4 linked regions of the Homo sapiens genome follow. The protein of the gene in region 1 purifies or fractionates together with the protein of each later gene. This does not show direct contact. Each region holds a gene or a part of one and is shown in the gene's direction. Other genes may lie near its edges.

Region 1 (5,411 bases):
TCCCATTTTTGTCAGCCAGTGGAAACTTGTGAAAGGTTATCTCTGGCACTGGTATCAGGAGGCGCAAGTGCTTAGTAAAACTAAGCTGAGATTTTTGAGGAAACCATAGATCTGTTTCCTTTTAGCTGGGAACAAAGAGCAGGGGGAAGGAGTCAGGACTGCAGTGGCTGCCTGAGAAGTTGGGTACCTATTCTGGAGGTAATGAGAGATTTGGGTTACAAGAGGGAGGTGATCTTACCAAAGTCCTAACAGGGTCCATCCCGTTAGCGTGGAGAGCAGACTGTGGGGTTGAGGGAAGAGGAAAGAAGATCAGAGTGGAAGCTACAGCCAGTCCAGGGTAATGGACCAGAGTCATTGATTAGGAGATGTGTTGCATTCTGGATGCAAATTTTTAAAGGGAGCAACTAAATTTTCTGATGTAGACAGCGAGGGAGTGAAACAGGATTCAGCGATGACCCCATGGTTCTTCAACTGAGATGGAGAAGTTGGTATTAACAGTAATATTCACTGGAGACAACAGGAGCTTTATTTGGTCATGTAAGAGTTTGAGATGTTTCAGAGACATTAAGTAGGCATTAAGTAGGTGGCTGAACACCCAGGTCTGGAAATCTGGGGAGTGCTTCAGAATGGAGACATCCAAAATGTGGTGGTCATTGTGTGGACTAAGGTGAGTGAGCTGTGGATTACATTTAGAAGGGTTGTTCTATTTTTTTTTTTTTTTTTTGAGATGGAGTGTCTCTCTTGTTGCCCAGGCCAGAGTGCAATGGCGCGAGCTTGGCTCACCACAACCTCCGCCTCCCGGCTTCAAGCAATTCTCCTGCCTCAGCCTCCCGAGTAGCTGGGATTACAGGCATGCGCCACCACGCCCGGCTAATTTTGTATTTATTTAGTAGAGACAGGGTTTCTCCATGTTGGTCAGGCTAGTCTTGAACTCCCAACCTCAGGTGATCCACCCGCCTCAGCCACCCAGAGTTCTGGGATTACAGGCGTAAGCCACCGCATCCGGCCTACAAGGGTTAATCTTTAGGCATGGTGGTACAGGTTATTTGGCCAGGAAGGGCAGAATGGGGGCTAAGGACCAAGCCTTTTGGTTGGATAAGTGGGTGATATTCTTGGGCTTTCTAAACAGAGGTAAGGGAGGTTAGTGGCTATGGAGGTAGGGTGTTTGGAGAGGATAGTTGGGCAGGTGGCATACACTTTCAAGGGAAGAGTGGATATAAGGTGGATGCAGAGGCATAGGTGTATTTGAGGCAAATGGCTGTCCTTTTTTTCCTTTGTGCTTATTCAGCACTCTGTGGAATCACCAGGATTTTTTGATGACTTTGATGGGGCCTAGGGTGTTTATTCAACCTGGAGGATAAGGCCAGGTGCCAATGTGGTCATCTGTGACAGTCACTTGGCCTGGGGTAGGTGATCAGTGGAGCTAGTCTTTGAGTGTTAAGTGGACAGAGGAAGGTTGTTACTGCTGAGGGGCTAGCAAGTGCAGCACGGAAGTGGAATAGGGCCATGGGTATCTGAGATGCACATGTGGTTCTGTGTGGCCTAAATCTGAGGCAAAGAATGGAGCCAGCCAGGGAGCCCTCATAGGATTTGGGGCTGCTACCACTAGTGGATGCCCTGGGAGATCTAGGGTAGTATTAGATCCGTTTGAATCTGTCGAGCATACTCTGGACGCTGTGTGCTAAGTTATGGTGTAAAGTCTAAAATTAAGGCCCAGTATGACATCTGGTGAAATCAGGGTGGCATCAAATGGCCTGAGTACAAGTTTCCCTCCCTACTCTTCTCCCAAACAGACAACCCTTTTAATCAAGGAGACCAGGCACAATTTCTGCCTATCACTTTGTAGCAGATTTCAGCTCCCTACCAGGTCATGGAGTTTTCCAAACAAGCCCATTGTGGGAACCAGGGGGCAGTTGATCCTTTTGTTCTCAAAGTGCTTGCATCCCACAGTTTTTGGTTATTCACTTTTTTTCTGGACTAGACCCCCATGTGACCCTGTGTGGTACATGTTGTCCTCATCTCCCAGGTTCTATGTACATATGATTAATAAACTGCTATATCATCTTTCTTTTTTTTTTTTTTTTGAGACGGAGTCTCGCTCTGTCGCCCAGACTGGAGTGCAGTTTCGCAATCTTGGCTCACTGCAACCTCCGCCTCCTGGGTTCAAGCAATTCTCCTGCCTCAGCCTCCTGAGTAGCTGGGATTACAGGTGTGCTTCACCACGCCCGGCTAATTTTTGTATTTTTAGTAGAGATGGGGTTTCGCCATATTGGTCAGGCTGGTCTTGAACTCCTGACCTCGTGATCCACCCGTCTTGGCCTCCCAAAGTGCTGGGATTACAGGCATGAGCCACCATACCCAACTGCTGTATCGTCTTTCTAGTGTCAGGTATTGTGTGTTTGTCCATATCCATAACCCTAGTGTGGCAATCCTGCCTTCGCTAATGGGGTAAAGAGGAAGAGATTAAAACAGTGACATGGGAGGTAAGAGCAGGGAGATGCCTATGGTGTGGGCAGTGAGGTGGCAGCCCTGGGCTTGGGGCTGTGGTGTCTGGAGATAGGAGGGATGTGTATTCTGAAGAATGATGTGCATCTGGAAAGGGAGTAAGTGACAGCTGCAGGGCCCTGGTATTGAGACTTAGATGACCTTGGACATTTCAGGGGGATTTCATGATGGGATAGTATGGATCCTTCCATGCCAGGCCCCCAGCTTAGATGCCTATTTATCCATGTGCTGGTTTCTCCTCTCAGTTGGGGAGCTTGGGAAGAGAATGGGCATGGGGTAAAGATGTGGGGGTATGCATTGTGGGTCCTTGGGATAGGGGCTCTTGGTGGTTTCATCTGTTCCCATTGTGGCAGGGCACTGTGACCTTTGAAGATGTGGCCGTACACTTCTCCTGGGAGGAATGGGGTCTCCTTGATGAGGCTCAAAGATGCCTGTACCGTGATGTGATGCTGGAGAACTTGGCTCTTTTAACCTCTCTAGGTAAGGTTCTTTTACCCTTTCCTGTGCCCTGAGCTAGTCTGTGCCCTTCCTCTTTTCTCTATAGGCAGGTCTGTCCTTCTCATGACAAGACTATGGGCTCTGCTTCTTTCTCAGTTCCCTGCATAGTTCTGTCATTGGTAAGACTAAGGTGTGCATACTGTCTTCTCCTCTCCTTGAGGAGCCCCAGTACCTGTTTCCTCACAGCCTCACAGGGAAGGATTCAGAGTCTGCAGTCTTGCAGTCACCCTAGTGGATCCCACCTTGATTGTCCCCTCCATGTCTGGGTGACTTTTTCCAGATTTGAGGATCCTGTGTGCCCCAGCTACTACTTCCATCCCGAGCTGGCATTTCATTATGCCTGCCTATGCCAGGAGTTATTGTCACTGACATGGTCACTACTTATGTAGACCATGGACTCTTCTTACAAAGTATTCCTCTGAAATTTTCTTTGTAGTATTTGTGTGTGTGTGTGTTTTTCCTGTGGGCTGTCATGTGCTGAGTTTTTTGTGGGACAGTGCAGGCTGCTCTTCTGTTCTTTCTTCCCTTAGTACTTACATTATCCAGATGCTGTATCAGAGCAGCAACCTGTTCTGTTTGGCGAGCATTTTGGTGCCAATGCCAGTGGTCACAGCTCACTTCCGGTTTCCCTTCACCATTCTTGACATTTTGCTGACAAGTCAGCTCTACTACTTGTCACTTCTGCTCTTAACATCCAGCCTGGGGCTAATCCTCACATCTCTGGACTCCGTATCTTATCTGTTTTTCTCACTGCTACACCTGCAGTTCTTTCTAACGTTAGCCTCTATATAGTGTGTCATGAGGTATGCACATACTCTTTTTTTTTGAGACGGAGTCTCACTCTGTCACCCAGGCTGGAGTGCAGTGGCATGATCTCGGCTTACTGCAACCTCTGCCTCCCAGGTTCAAGTAATTCTCCTGCCTCAGCCTCCTGAGTAGCTGTGATTACAGGCGCATGCCACTGCACCTGGCTCATTTTTGTATTTTTTTAGAGATGGGGTTTCACCATCTTGACCAGGCTGGTCTTGAACTCCTGACCTTGTGATCCACCCACCTTGGCCTCCCAAAGTGCTGGGATTACAGGTGTGAGCCACTGCGCCTGTCCTTGCACATACTCTTAAACAGTCCTTGAAGGCCAGCTGCTGCATTGCAGTCGTATTTCCATGGGCTTGCATATACTATTCTACATAGCACTCATGTGTCGCCAGCAGATAAGCTTCTGCTAAAGTTGTTTGCAGAGGATTTAGTTTTAGACCCTGCCTCTCTCTTTGTGATACCTCATGGTTGTGGCCTTTACCTCTTGAGATCTCCCACATTCCTGTAATCTTTTTTTTTTTTTTTTTTTTTTTTGAGACGGAGTCTCCTTCTGTCACCCAGGCTGGAGTACAGTGGTGCAATCTTGGCTCGCTGCAACCTCCGCCTCCCGGGTTCAAGTGATTCTCCTGCCTCAGCCTCCTGAGTCCTGGGACTACAGGCACCCACCACCATGTCCAGCTAATTTTTGTATTTTTAGTAGAGACGGGGTTTCACCATATTGGCCAGGCTGGTCTCAAACTCCTGACTTTGTGATCCACCCACCTTGGACTCCCAAAGTGCTGGGATTACAGATGTGAGCCACCGCACCCGGCCCATTCTTGTAATCTTTATCCTAGAATTGCTAAACAGCCTCATCTGCAACTGAACCCAACTCTACTGTCATGCAAACGATCCCATGGACTTGTTCCTGGGTTTGTCATACACACACTTGTATAAGGGCTGCCCCCTCCCACCATAGTTAATGTGCACTTCACTAGCATTTCTTGCTTTTAGGTTTTTGGCATAGAGTGGTGGATGAGGAGGCACCTTCTGACAAGAGCATTTCTTTAGAAGGAGTGACCCAACTCAGGACTTCTAAGGCAGATCTTTCTCCCTAGAAGGCCCACCACTGTGAGACGTGTAGCCTGGTCTTGAGAGACATTTTGCTCTTGGCTGGGCCCTAGGGGACACATCATAGGCAGAAATTATATAGAGGTGGGGCATGTGGGAAATAATTGTATTTCATTGCAGATGTTCATCATCAGAAGCAGCACCTTGGAGAAAAACATTTCAGAAGCAATGTGGGCAGAGCCTTGTTTGTGAAGACCTGCACATTCCATGTGTCAGGGGAGCCTTCCACCTGCAGAGAAGTTGGGAAGGACTTCCTGGCCAAGTTGGGATTTCTCCATCAACAGGCTGCTCACACTGGGGAGCAATCAAATAGCAAAAGCGACGGTGGGGCCATCAGTCACAGAGGAAAAACTCATTACAACTGTGGAGAACACACAAAAGCATTCAGCGGTAAACACACACTTGTTCAGCAGCAGAGAACCCTCACTACAGAAAGATGTTACATATGCAGTGAATGTGGGAAATCCTTTAGCAAAAGCTAC
Region 2 (4,544 bases), on another chromosome or scaffold:
TCATAGAGTGTTTTCTATTTTCTAAGTACTCTGATTATTTACTTACAATTTTTGGTTACAGAATGATATATATGAGTCTGAATTTTGTGTATTAATTTAGGGCTTTTTAGGGAAACTTTACTAATTCTAGTTGTGGTAATAGTTTCTTATATCAGCAGATACATGGTGGCTATTGGCTAGAGTCAGGGCACTGTGCTAGATGCTGGAAACGCAATGAGATAAAAAATAGTCTCTGCCCTTGAGAAGCCAGACAGAATACCTACACCATTGATCACTAACCTTAGTAACAACTATGGTGCTGTTACTAGACGTCTAGCATTGTGCAAAGCACTCTGGAAGAATTAGTTCAGCAGCAAACAGCCTTCTGAAGTGGTTACTGATGTCCTCATGTTACAGATGGTTAGACTGACGCTCAGAGAGGATAAGTAACATGCCCAGGGTTGCACAGCTAGTAAGAAGAGCTGATTCTGGATTCGGGTTGATGATTCCAAAACTTGTACCCAGCACAGTACCTGGCACATAGCAGGTGCTCAGTAAATACTGTTGGCTGATACACTGATGCCACTGTTTGCTTATGCAAAAGACCTGACCTAATGGGTGACTCTGAAAATAGATACTACAGTCTTCAGAGAAGGCAAAGAGAACCCAGAACTACGACATCTGGGAAGGCTTTATGAAAGGGTCCTTTAAACTGGGCTTTGAAGTAAAGACAAGATGAGGAGAGGACAAACTGTCTTCTAGATAGGGGAAGGACACAGGTATGGGAACAGGAGTGTCAATAGTGGATGCAGGGACCACAGTAGTTTAACTAGAGGAGTGGATTCATCGCCTGGGGGCAGTGGGAGAAGAGGGTAGGCAGATGGGAGGGTTCACATTGTAGAAGAGCTCAAATATGCACCAAAGACTCAAAAAAGGTTCTGAGTCCAGGTGTGAGTGATGTGATGAAAGTGGTATTTTAAGGAAGATTAATCTAATGGCCAGTTATCTAAATGAATTACAGGGGAAGGAGAGAGGCAGAAAGGTTTTTAAAAATCTCTTATGACAGAGATGGAGACACTGTAAAAACAATTACCATTGTCCCATATAGCCTCAGCTTTCTTGCTGAAATAGAATTCTTCCAGCACCTTTGATGAGGACTAGGTTCTAGTGCTGAGAGCTGCTAGTAAGACTGCGTAAAATTCCTCACAGATAATATTGGCATTGTTTCAGTTAAGAATAGTATGGCCAGGCGCGGTGGTTAATGCCTGTAATCCTGGCACTTTCGGAGGCCGAGGCGGGCGGATCATGAGGTCGGGAGATTGAGACCATCCTGGCTAACATGGTGAAACCCTGTCTCTACTAAAAATACAAAAAATTAACCAAGCGTAGTGGTGGGCGCCTGTAGTCCCAGCTACTCAGGAGGCTGAGGCAGGAGAATGACGTGAACCCAGGAGGCAGAGCTTTCAGTGAGCTGAGATTGTGCCACTGCACTCCAGCCTGGGCGACAGAGTGAGACGCCACCTTAAAAAAAAAAAAGAATAGTAGCAGTATGTTGCCTAGATAACCACATGCCTGACACCTTATATATATTATTGCATGTATTCCTCACAACCCTACACATAGCAGAGAACACTGTACATATATAGGTTTAGACCTTAACCAAATAATATCCACCACCTGGAGTAATCAGAGGAATAAGGAATCAGTCCAAATCTTTCCAATTCCAGTGCTCATGTTCTTATCCCTCAGCCATTCTGTGTTTTGTCTAGAAGAGGACCATGATAGAGAGAGGGAGAGAGAGAGATCCAAGGGATGGTGGTAGAGTAGGAGACAGGAGGGAGATTGTAAGTTGGGGTAGAAGAAGCTGAGTGTAGGTATGCCAATGACTAAGAGAGTCTTTCTTTAGGACCTGAGACTGTTTGCTCCTTTACCATGTGATAAAATGAGAGCAAAGATAGTTACATATTTAATGAAAATATAGACACACTGGATAAGCAAAGGGAAAAACTGAATAATAACTTAAAAACACCCAGCCAAGCACAGTGGCTCACGCCTGCAATCCCAGCACTTTGGGAGGCCCAGGCAGGCAGATCACAAGGTCAGGAGATCGAACCATCCTGGCCAACATGGTGAAACACTGTCTCTACTAAAAATACAAAAATTAGCTGGGCACAGTGGTGCGTGCCTGTAATCCAAGCTACTCAGGAGGCTGAAGCAGGAGAATCACTTGAACCAGGGAGTTGGAGGTTGCAGTGAGCCCAGATCACGCCACTGCACTCCAGGCTGGTGACAGAGTGAGACTCCGTCTCAAAAACAAAACAAACAAACAAACAAAAAAACCAAAAAACCCACCTGACAGCCTGAGAATGGGGATGGGGGAGGTAGTGGGTTAAAGTGATGAATAGAAAAACTTTTACTGTTTACTGAATATAGTAGGGAATTTGTGGTGGTTCTTGTTCTTAAGTGGTGTGATGGTGGATGATCTTTTACATTTTCATTTATGTTTTCCATATATGATTTTAATTTAAAAATTACTGTTGAAAGCTTAGAAAAAGTACTGTTTTGGCCGGGCGCGGTGGCTCACGCCTGTAATCCCAGCACTTTGGGAGGCCGAGGCGGGCGGATCACAAGGTCAGGAGATCGAGACCATCTTGGCTAACACGGTGAAACCCCGTCTCTACTAAAAATACAAAAAATTAGCCGGGCGCGGTGGCGGGCGCCTGTAGTCCCAGCTACTCGGGAGGCTGAGGCAGGAGAATGGCATGAACCTGGGAGGCGGAGCTTGCAGTGAGCCGAGATTGCGCCACTGCAATCTGGCCTGGGCTAAACAGCGGGACTCCGTCTCAAAAAAAAAAAAAAAAAGAAAAAGAAAAAGTACTGTTTCAGAAACAAACATGCCTTCATATTCTTTTTGTGTATACTTTACAGATAAATTTGGACAGCGGGCATTTGTGGGCAAAGTTTGCATGGATTTGAATGACACTTTTCCAGAATACAAGGAGACCACTGAGGAATCGATCAAGGAAACTGAGAGGTAAAAGGCCCATTTGTCTTGATTTGTCTTACAGGTGAATTCCTGTGCTGCACTGATGGAGTTAGAGATGGAAAAAGGAAACAGGATACTGTTATCACCCAGTTGGGATGTGCACATAGTGACTCAGAATGTTCTGTTTAATGCAATGGGTCGGTTAGTCTACAGTGAATTTGATCAAACACTCGATAATCATTAATGATTTACAAAGAGCTTTCCTTTGTAGTGCCACACTTGATCCTCATAGAAATCTCCATGAAGCATCTGTCTTTTTATTTATTTTTTATTTATTTTTATTTTTTTTTTTTGAGACGGAGTCTCACTCTGTCATCCAGGCTGGAGTGCAATGGCGTGGTCTCAGCTCACTGCAACCTTCAGCTCACTGCAACCTCTGCCTCCTGGGTTCAAGCGATTCTTCCACCTCAGCCTCCTGAGTAGCTGGGACTATAGGTGCATGCCACCACACTCAGCTAATTTTTGTATTTTTAGTAGAGACGGGGTTTCACTATGTTGGCTGGGCTGGTCTCGAACTCCTGACCTCGTGATCTGCCCGCCTCGGCCTCCCAAAGTGCTGAGATTACAGGCGTGAGCCACCACGCCCAGCCCACATCTGTCTTTTATGATAAGGAAGCTGAGTCTGACATAGGCTAAGAGGCTTGCTCACAGTCATACAGCTTTTAAGTAGTGGAGCCAGAATTCAAAACCAGGGTCTATGACTCTAAATTCAAAGTTCTTTTTTTTTTTTCTTTTCTTTTCTTTTTTTGAGACAGACTGTCACTCTGTCACCCAGGCTGGAGTGCAATGGCGCGATCTCAGCTCACTGAAACCTCCACCTCCTGTGTTCAAGAGATTCTCCTGCCTCAGCCTCCCGAGTAGCTGGGATTACAGGCACGTGCCACCACACCCAGCTAATTTTTGTATTTTTAGTAGAGACGTGGTTTCACCAGGTTGGCCAGGCTGGTCTTGAACTCCTGACCTCAGGTGATCCACCTGCCTTGGCCACCCAAAGCACTGGGATTACAGGCATGAGCCACTGTGCCCGGCTCAAAGTTCTTTCTCTCATGATATAGATCACACCTCATATTCAATGTAAGTAAAGAGAATAAAAGAGAGAGAAACAGAGGGTATGCAAGAATACTTGCTATGGCATGTGTTAATTTAAAAATGATGATGGAAGTGAATAATTATTTGTGAAATAAAATAGTATACAAGAAGTTAGGAAAAATGAGTTATAGTTACAGGTTAATGAAAGACTTTCACTACAAAAGGATTTTTTTAAAAGATACCAAAGTAATATGTGTTTCCATGGTCCAGAACTTAGAGAAACACAAAAAGGTATAAAGAAGAATTTTTTTTTGTAATGAAACCACCAAAAGTTACCATAATAGGGTATCTTTTATTGTTTTCTCAAGGTGGTATATGCATCCTTCACTACTATTTCGTCCTACCTTGGGAACAGGAAAGTTGTTCTGGATGTATGCTGTAATGGCCATAACAGGCTAATATAGGGATCTAGAATATCCCCTCTCCACAA
Region 3 (4,544 bases), on another chromosome or scaffold:
TGCAGATGGACTTATTCTAGAATTTCTTCCTTCTTGAGAGTGCTGGGGGGAAAGATTAGCTTCCAGCTGACTCACATGTTTGGCCTCTTGCAATGCAGAGTTTTTAGTTTTCCTATGAGTTGCATGTCTAGATACTGACCCATTCTGCTCCTGGATGAGGGTTACCACTTCCAAACAGGATTCCCCAGTGCATGGAGCCTTTCTCTAAAATAAGAAAGCGAAATCAGAATTTAACCTCTGAAAAGGAAATGGAAGGATCAAAGTCTGTGGGGGTGAGCCAGGGTAAATGGGAGGTGGGAGATTTCAGTGGAAACTGGAGGTCTCCTGTGAGCCATTGGTGTGAGTCAGTCCTTGAGCCAGATCGTGTTGGGAGGGCACTGGCAGAATCTGCTGTCAGCCTGCAATGAAGAATGTCCTCCACTCTAACCCAAAGGGGTGTTCCCTGGTGAGGCCCTGCTGAGAAGCTAGGGTTGGTCTCGCTTCATCTCTGTGTCCTGAGGTTTCTTGAGAAAGGTTGGTTGTGGGCCCGCAGAGGGCTGTGCTCATCCCACCCTGGGCTGTGTGAGTACTGCCCATGCTCTCTGCTGAGGACACCTGTATCTTGAGGCAGGAACAGAGACAGAGTGAAGGTCACAGGGAGAGAGAAGAATTTTGCAGCCATATTTGGCTGGCTTCAGGCATTTAATCTGACTGAATAGGGTTCATTTCTTCAGTGACTAGGGCAGTAGATTCTCTAGGCACCTGCTGCCCCGGGGCAGAGCATGTGTTTCTGAGAACCTGGTTTATCCCCTTTCTATTCCAGAGCAGCTCCGGTTGTCTCACTGTATGTTTTGGAAACTGGTTGTATCCAATTTAGACCTTCATTGCTATTCACTGGCTAATCAATCAGCAAATATTTGTTGAGTGATAAGCATTGTTTGCATTGCAGTTGGGGAAATGAGCTACTCATAGAAGGAAAATTGGCAACTGTTACAAAGCTGTGTTTGAAAAAGGCCAAAGGAGTGGTTCAGCCATTTCTTATGGGAACCCAGGGGAGGGGAAAGTCACAGAGGGCTAATCTGATCACCAGAGGCCTTCATGCCAGTAGTTATTTATTACACGCTTGCCTTATGCCAGCACTTTGCTAAGGGCCTTCACAGGCCATTATTATGACAATCCTTACCCGGGAAAATATCTGTACTATGGATATTGTCTTCCTCTTTTTTTAAAACAGGTAAGTAACTTTCCAGGTTTACACAGATGCTGGAGAAGGTCATTGACTCCAGCTCTTTTTGGCTTTCTGGAGCCTGGGCAGGTAGAGAGGTGGGTGGAGGAGGAAGGATACTCCAGGTGGAAAAACAGCATGTGCCGAGCTATGGAGGTGAGGTTCGTAAGGCGTGTGTTTGAGTGACAGTGAGCAGTGTTGGTTTTGCCCCCCTTCTCTTCCACGGCACAGGCCACATCTGCTATGTGTACCTGTGATTCCCAGCACAGAGCCTGGTGCAGAGTAGGAGCCCACTGCACGTTCATGGTGGCCAGTGGCCTGAGCCTCACAGGATTCCAAATGACAGCGTGAGTGTAGAACCTTCTGCTGGTGCCGTGGATCCTCTTGACTCAGACCGGGGGTGTCAGCCAGGTGTGAGGGGTAGAGAAGGCATTTTGTCCATCCAGTGACGTCACTGCCCAGAAACTGTCAGCAAGGAGGAAGGAAGGCATGAGTTGGTGACCGCATAGTGCTGACTAGCTGGACAGGGCATAAACTAACTCTCTGTGTCAGGAGAGCTCCTGAATTCTTCGGTGTAGAGTCCAGAGCTGAGGGTCAGTAGATTCTAGTCACTAGACCACCAGGTCTGACTGGCTCTTGGTGGTTTGGGTAAATCTGTGCCTCTGTCTTCATGGAAGTCCAGACCCACTTAACACTCGGAGGCTGCATGTTTCTTGTTAAGAGTTGTTTGCCATCCAGCACCTCAACGGTTGTCAGAGCTAGAAGGGGCATTAGAGATCATTCATCCTGGCCCTCGCTGATCCAGGAGGAAGCAGAGGTCCAGAGAGACATGTGGAGCTCACGGTGCTGCAGCCAGTTAAACTCCAAGCAAGGCTTCCTGCTCCACCCAGTGCCCTCCCTGCACTTGTGAGTGGGGCAGGGGACGCTGCCCTTGACTCCAGACCAAGCCCCCAGTGGGGGCTCAGCAGAATCCCCACAACACCCCCTACCAGAGGGCATCCCCTCACCCATCAATCCAAGATTTACAGCTGTCCAACTTCTCTTGCCTCGCCACCCTTCCCCTCTCCATTAGTCCATTTATTCTGTGGTTGGTAGAAAAATTACGCTGTTCAGAGCAATAATTGCACCAGGAAAGGGTTTTCTCCCCAGTAGTAGAGCTAGACTGATACTACTGATCATTTTGGTGTTAGGCATTTAAGACACCTGACACTTCAAAAAGCCTCTGTCACCCAGCTCTGCATTGCGTTGACAGTAAAGCTTAAATGCAGCTTTGCTTTAACAATGGAGCACTCACATAAGGACCTTCTCTATTCCATCTCCTGTTACTTGTCAAAAGACAAAATTACACCACATTCAAAAATCTTAACTGGCTTCTATTTGTGATTCTGGAATCGGACAACACCACATTCTGTCTTACAGAATGAGTATTCTGATGAGCTGAGCAGAGGAGTTTGGCTTTATAGACAGAAAAAGGCTGAAGAAAGTAGAAACAGATCAAAAATCTGATTGGTTATTTCGGTCCCTTTTAAAGGTTAAAGCAGAGGAGACTTCTGTATGTTGGCTGAAACTGGCTTGTTTGAAGATTTGACTGTTAACTCACTCTCTCCTGATCTTGGAAGGTCAGATCGACAGCTTAGTTTTGGCTTGGTGGCGTGGAACTTCAGCTTGAGGGACTCCATCTTGGTTTGGTCTCTTGGGCCTTGTGCAGGAGCTCAGTCCCAACCAATGGCCTCCTAGAAATATTATTTAACAGTTCTCCCCTTTTGGTCAGGTTCTCACCTAGGTGAGAGTTACTAAAACAGGGCATCAGCACTACTCTCAGTAATCATCGTTTTGGGTTTTCGGTCTTAACACATCATTTATAGGTTAAGGTGTCCTCATTATCATGCGTTTCTTGGAGTTTTATCATTCCAGCTGGAGAGAGACCATTTAGCATTCAGCAGAGGGCTGCATATAGATATTTAAGACTCTTTGAGAGGATACAGTGTAACAGGGAAACTACTGTAATGACTCTCCCCAGGATAATACTAAGAGTTTACAATATGACGCTTAGCCAGGGACCCATGAACCAAACCAACTAAAATTGAAGAGATCAAAGAATGAGCCAGATGAGGAATTTACCCTTTTTAAGCAAGTACTATTTGTTCATTTTTTTGCAACTGAGTCTCAATACACTATGTGTCTATCCATGTGCAACAGAAAGTGTCAGCAATTGCACAGATTCCCTGTTCGCTAGTAGGTAGCAGTTCTATTATCTAGTATCCCATGACTGGGTTAAATTAAAGCAGGAAGTGAGAACACATGGGTCTAAAAGTCTGACTCTATAAAAGGGACCACTAGTACAGTTTGAACAACAGTTGTGTTAGGGATGTTGCTGAAGTTACCCACTGGGCAGACTAAAGGATCCCTTTGGTCATGTAAAGATCTGGGTTTAGCGTGACAAATCCAACAGTTTGTGAAGTTACCCACAGAAGCCACTGATTGTGAAATTCTAACTACAGCATTATCCTGCCAGACAAAAAAAGGTAGATGTAATCAAGGATAAAGTGGAAGTCTTATTCCAATGAAACTCTTGTTCAGAAGTTTTGGGAAAGCATGAAGTTGTCAACTTCTTGTCCTGGTTTGCAGTTTGATTGTCTCTGGTTATGGCATTGGGCATTTTGGTGAACTCTTTGTGTAGCGTACACGTCAGGCATGAGACTTGTCCCTTGAAATGTATATCAAGTTGTTCAGCTTCTGTTTATAGGGCTTTAGGCACAGAACAGTTCCTGTTCTTAGTTGGAGAATTGTAGCTAGTTATTGGAAGAAACTGGAAGAATTCAGAATTCAATCCATCTTATAGGTAGATGATAAAAACTTGAAAATGATCAACAAGGCTACAATCTAATAACAGATGTACTATAGTTTTTCTTTAGGAACATATTTTTTCTCTCTATAGTCACCCCCATTTCTACCAAAGATAATCAGGGTAAGTGGGAGGCAGAGGTCACAGTGAGCCGAGATTGCACCACTGCACTCCAGCCTGGATGACAGAGCAAGACTCCATCTAAAATAAAATAAAATAAAATAAATAAAATAAAATTCAGACTAATTTGCTTGCAGAAAATATTTAGTCACATCAGACTTGGCCTAATTATTTACATAAGTGTGGCAAGAATAGTGATTGACCACGTAGGCTCTTCTTAAGTTTGCTTTGCTAGAACTTATCGATAAGGAATCTCAGATTGGACTTTTAACAACTTCTCAAGGCTAGGAAGTCAACCCAAGCCCAACTTCAGATTTCACCTGCAGTACCTATAGATTCATCATAGGTATATTCTCAAGTATGGCATCACACTCA
Region 4 (4,544 bases), on another chromosome or scaffold:
AACCCCCACCTGATAATTTATGGTCCCAGAGATTCCCGGTGGCCTAATCTGTGTGAATGATGCAGTGTTGACAGCACAGCGAGCTTCCCTTGCCTGACAGGTGTTCAGGGTCTGGAACGAGGGAGGACCGGCCCCTTTTATGGAAGGGGCTGAGTCGGGCGGGCGCCTGACCCTTCTGCACCCGTCCTTTCCACCTCTGCAGAGGCCCAGTGCAGGACGTGCAGCCCCAGGCTTCCCGCTTGCCCTGCGGGGAATGTGTCCTGCTCTCGGGTTACGCTGGAGCAGAAGGGCCTTCCAGGCTATTTGTAGTGCCCATGTGTCTCTGTCTAAAACCAGATAGGAGGCAGTAGTCCCAGTCCTGGCATCCTGGTCTGCATTTAGAGCAGGCTTAAAAAAATAAAAATAACCCCCAAGCCCATCCTCCAGCTCCCTTACAGGACAGCCCTGTGGTAGCTGAAGCTCACAATAGACAGGAGTAGGAGAAAACCCTTTCAGCCTTTTCCCCACCCCACTGATGCGGGGCGTAAGCAAAGACACTTTAAAAATGGTCGTCGGGATTGGCCGCGCACAGTGGCTCATGCCTGCGATCCAATCCCAGGACTTTGGGAGGCCAAGGCAGGTGGATTGCTTGAGCTTAGGAGTTTGAGACCAGGTTGGGCAACGTGGCAAGACCTCACCTTTACAGAAAATACAAAAAATTATCTTGGTGTGGTGGTGCACACCTGTGGTCCCAGCTACTTGGGAGGCTGAAGTGGGAGGATCGTTTGAGCCCGGATGGCAGAGATTGCAGTGAACCCAGATGGTGCCACTGCACTCCAGCCTGGGCAACAGAGTGAGACCTCATCTCAAAAAAAAAAATGTAGTCAGCCCATGTTAACTCTGGTTCTTGCTATGGAATGGCATTTAAAGTGATTTTTACTTTCTCCTTTGAACTTTCTGTTTGAATGATTGATTGATTGATTGATTGATTGATTGACACAAGATCACACTTTGTCTCCCAGGCTGGAATACAGTGGTGCAATCACAGCTCACTGTAGCCTCAGACTCCCAAGCTCAAGTGATCCTCCTGCCTCGGCCTCCCAAGTAGCTGGGACTACAGGCACACACCCCCACACTTGGCTATTTTTTTTTTTTTAGAGACGGGGTCTAACTATGTTGGCCAGGCTGGTCTCAAACTCCTGGCCTCAAGTGATCCTCCCGTCTCAGCCTCCCAAAGTGCTGGGATTACAGGCATGAACCACCGCACTTGGCCTGTTTGAATCATTAAAACAAACCTGTATCATTTTTACAAAAGCAGTTGTTGTTTTTTTTTTAATTTAAAAGGCAATTGGGACCTCTAATATTTGGAGACTCAAACATTTTTTATAAATGTCAATGCTGATCATCACTTTCTTTTTCTGCTGTCTCCCGAGTTTTGTCCAGCCTATGTCTGCAGCTTCCAGGAATCTTGCCATCATAGGTCAAATATCCCTTATCCAAAATGGCCTGGGACCAGAAGTGTTTTGGATTTTAGATTTTGGAATATTTGCATTATATAATACTTACCGGTTGAGCATCCCAAATTTAAAAAATCCAAAGGCTCAAAAATCTGAAACTTTTTGAGTGCCAGACACAATGCTGAAAGGAAATGCTCATTGGCGCATTTTGGATTCGGTATGATGAACCTGTGCCATTGAAGCTGGCACCATGTCTCTGAGGGAGAGTGCTCCCTTTGCAGGGACAATCTGGGGTGGAAGGCAGGTGCTTTTTTTTTTTTTTTTTTTTTTTTTTTTGAGATGGAGTTTCGTTCTTGTTGCCCAGGCTGGAGTGCAGTGGAATAATCTCAGCTCACTGCAACTTCCACCTCCTGGATTCAAGCGATTCTCCTGCCTCAGCCTCCCGAGTAGCTGGGATTACAGGCATGCGCCACCATGCCCAGCTAATTTTTGTATTTCTAGTAGAGATGGGGTTTCACCATGTTGGCCAGGCTGGTCTTGAACTCCTGACCTCAGGTGATCCTCTCGCCTCAGCCTCCCAAAGTGCTGGGATTACAGGCTTGAGCCACGGCACCTAGCTAATTTTTGTATTTTTAGTAGAGACGGGGTTTTGCCATGTTGCCCAGGCTGGTCACGAACTCCTGACCTCAGGTGATCCGTGGAAGGTGGGTGCCCTTGAAGGTCTGCTGTGAGCTGTGCTTCAAAGACAGAGAATGCTCTCTGCCTGTGGGAGGCGGAATTTGGAGCTCCCCAGGAAAAGAAGTGGGTGAAGAGCAAAGGTGGCAGGTGAAGAAAAGAGGGAGCCAGGAGACGGTGGTTGCGTGTTGCATATTGTGACCCCTCCCTGCTCCCCTAGGAACCCCTACACTCTCATGTACTCAACTTAGAAATAACAACAGTGGGGACCATATGGATCATGGCCCAGTGCCCTGGTTGCCTGCTGGGGAAGCCGGCGATCTGGACAGCGGAGGATGACACAGGGCATGGCATCCACTCCCATCCTGACTGCCACCCTGGACTTGAAGACTTGCCACCAGGGCAGGGGCCCACCAGGGGTCATTATCAGAGGGTAAACGCAGCCTCTAGAATGAGGAGGGGTCAGCTTGCTGTCTTCTGCAGAGGCTGGACAACACCCGGAAAATGCCGGCAATTCTGAGGGCCTCCTATGAAGTGGGTTAGGGAGTGGCAAGACCTGGTTCGGAGAGGTGGGTCCTGGGTATCCTTTGTGGGAACAGTTAAGGAACCAGAGCTGTTTAGTTCAGAGAAAGACATGGAAGGAAGGTTTTCTTCTGGCGTGTGAAGGGTTCTGACATGGGGGAAAAATCAGACTGAGAATAAGTAGCCTTATGGGGTCAGCAGGTAGAAAGTACACACAGGCACAAATAGCGTAAGAAATGTTAGAAGAACTTTCTCGTGGTCAGAGCATCTGCAGAGGGTTCTGAGCTGTCCTTGGAGGAAATTGGGTCCCCTTTCCCTGGACCCTGAGATGAACAAGCTGAGGCAGGGCCTTTATAGAGGTGATTGGTGCTTCTGACGGGGGTGTTTGGATGGTTGGAGGTCCTAGAGTCCTCATGCTGTCCCTACTTAACATGTGGCACCACTGAGGCCACCGCCGTCAGTGCTGATAACCAGAGCATGTGTGGAGCCTGTTTCTACACACCTGGGATCCTCCAAATAGCAGGTGTGGGAGTGGAGGTGCCCCAGCTGTGTGGCAGGTGGAAAGGAGGGCACCAGATATGAAATGATCGCTCAGGAAGGTGAACTCAGGTCCCCAGCCTCTCTGAACTCAGATTTTCTTTTCTTTCCTTTTTTTTCCCCTTGAGATAGAGTCTCACTCTGTCGCCCAGGCTGGAGTGCAGTGGCATGATCTTGGCTCACTGCAACCTCCGCCTCCCGAGTTCAAGTGATTCTCCTGCCTCAGCCTCCCGAGTAGCTGGGACTGCAGGCATACGCCACCACACCCAGCTAATTTTTGTATTTTTAGTAGAGACGGGGTTTCACCATGTTAGCCAGGATGGTCTCCAACTCCTGACCTCAAATGATCTGCCCACCTCAGCCTCTTAAAATGTTGGGATGACAGGCATGAGCCACCGCGCCCGGCCTGAACTCAGATTTTTCAATGCTTTATCATCGACAAAGCACCTTTGCACGCCTGCTCGCATCAGAGGGCCAGCTTCCCTGACATCGAGCCCTGCCCTGGCCTGTCCCAGGGAGAAAGGGTGCCCGCTCATTGGGCCAAACCCACTCATCACCCCACAAAGCCTGTTGGATTCACTTACAGGCCACCCGCTACAACTCCAAGCAGGAGGTGGGGAGGGGATCCAGGACAGATGCCTCCATTTCGCCTTGACATTTGGTTTCTGGTAGGAGGCCTGGCGTCCAGCCAGCACAGCAGAGCAGGGCCTGCGGGTAATGTTACAGTCTTGTCTCTGGAGCACACAGCCGCGTGAGTCCTGGTAGAAAGTGCTGAGTGCGTCGTGCCAAACTGGGATGGGTCAGAGGAGTCTTGCTCGCTCGCTGGGGTCTCCCCTCTGGCTGGGCTCTCTGGGGAACAAGATGCATAAAGACACATTGTGGAATCACAGCCTCACAACAGGCCCACTGGGAGGGACAGCAGAGGTGGTATTCTGATTTTTTTCTTTTTTTTTGAGACAGAGTCTCGCTCTGTCAGCAGGCTGGAGTGCAGTAGCACGATCTCGGCTCACTGCAACCTCCACCTCCTGGGTTCAAGCGATTCTCCAGCCTCAGTCTCCCAAGTAGCTGGGATTTCAGGCGTGCACCACCATGCCTGGCTAATTTTGTGTTTTTAGTAGAGACAGGGTTTCACCATGTTGGTCAGGCTGGTTTGGAACTCCTGGCCTCAGGCAATCTGCCCGCCTCGGCTTCCTAAAGTGCCGGGATTACAGGTGTGAGCCACCGTGCCCGGCCAGTATTCCGATTTTGTGCTAAGGAAATGGGCACAGAACAGTGAAGCAATGGGAGGAGTCGGGGTTTGAACTCTACTGTTTTGATCTCACATTCAGGCCTCTTCTCTGTGATCCACCCTGCTTCTTAAAGCAAGGCATGATC

What was found.
Region 2: the proteins of ZNF154 (region 1) and GDA purify together in Homo sapiens (affinity purification with mass spectrometry; one large-scale study listed by BioGRID and IntAct). This does not show direct contact.
Region 3: the proteins of ZNF154 (region 1) and QSOX1 purify together in Homo sapiens (affinity purification with mass spectrometry; one large-scale study listed by BioGRID and IntAct). This does not show direct contact.
Region 4: the proteins of ZNF154 (region 1) and SMTNL2 purify together in Homo sapiens (affinity purification with mass spectrometry; one large-scale study listed by BioGRID and IntAct). This does not show direct contact.

Annotation. Positions count from the first base shown.
Region 1 is NC_000019.10:57,702,427-57,707,837, reverse strand, and holds part of ZNF154 (zinc finger protein 154), read left to right. Parts: exon of another isoform or gene 1-2,714; coding exon of another isoform or gene 2,715-2,858; coding exon 2,859-2,985; intron 2,986-5,049; coding exon 5,050-5,411. UniProt on the Homo sapiens protein: May be involved in transcriptional regulation.
Region 2 is NC_000009.12:72,210,979-72,215,522, forward strand, and holds part of GDA (guanine deaminase), read left to right. Parts: intron 1-2,907; coding exon 2,908-3,013; intron 3,014-4,544. UniProt on the Homo sapiens protein: Catalyzes the hydrolytic deamination of guanine, producing xanthine and ammonia.
Region 3 is NC_000001.11:180,156,908-180,161,451, forward strand, and holds part of QSOX1 (sulfhydryl oxidase 1 isoform a precursor), read left to right. Parts: intron 1-4,544. UniProt on the Homo sapiens protein: Catalyzes the oxidation of sulfhydryl groups in peptide and protein thiols to disulfides with the reduction of oxygen to hydrogen peroxide. Plays a role in disulfide bond formation in a variety of extracellular proteins.
Region 4 is NC_000017.11:4,600,568-4,605,111, forward strand, and holds part of SMTNL2 (smoothelin-like protein 2), read left to right. Parts: intron 1-4,544.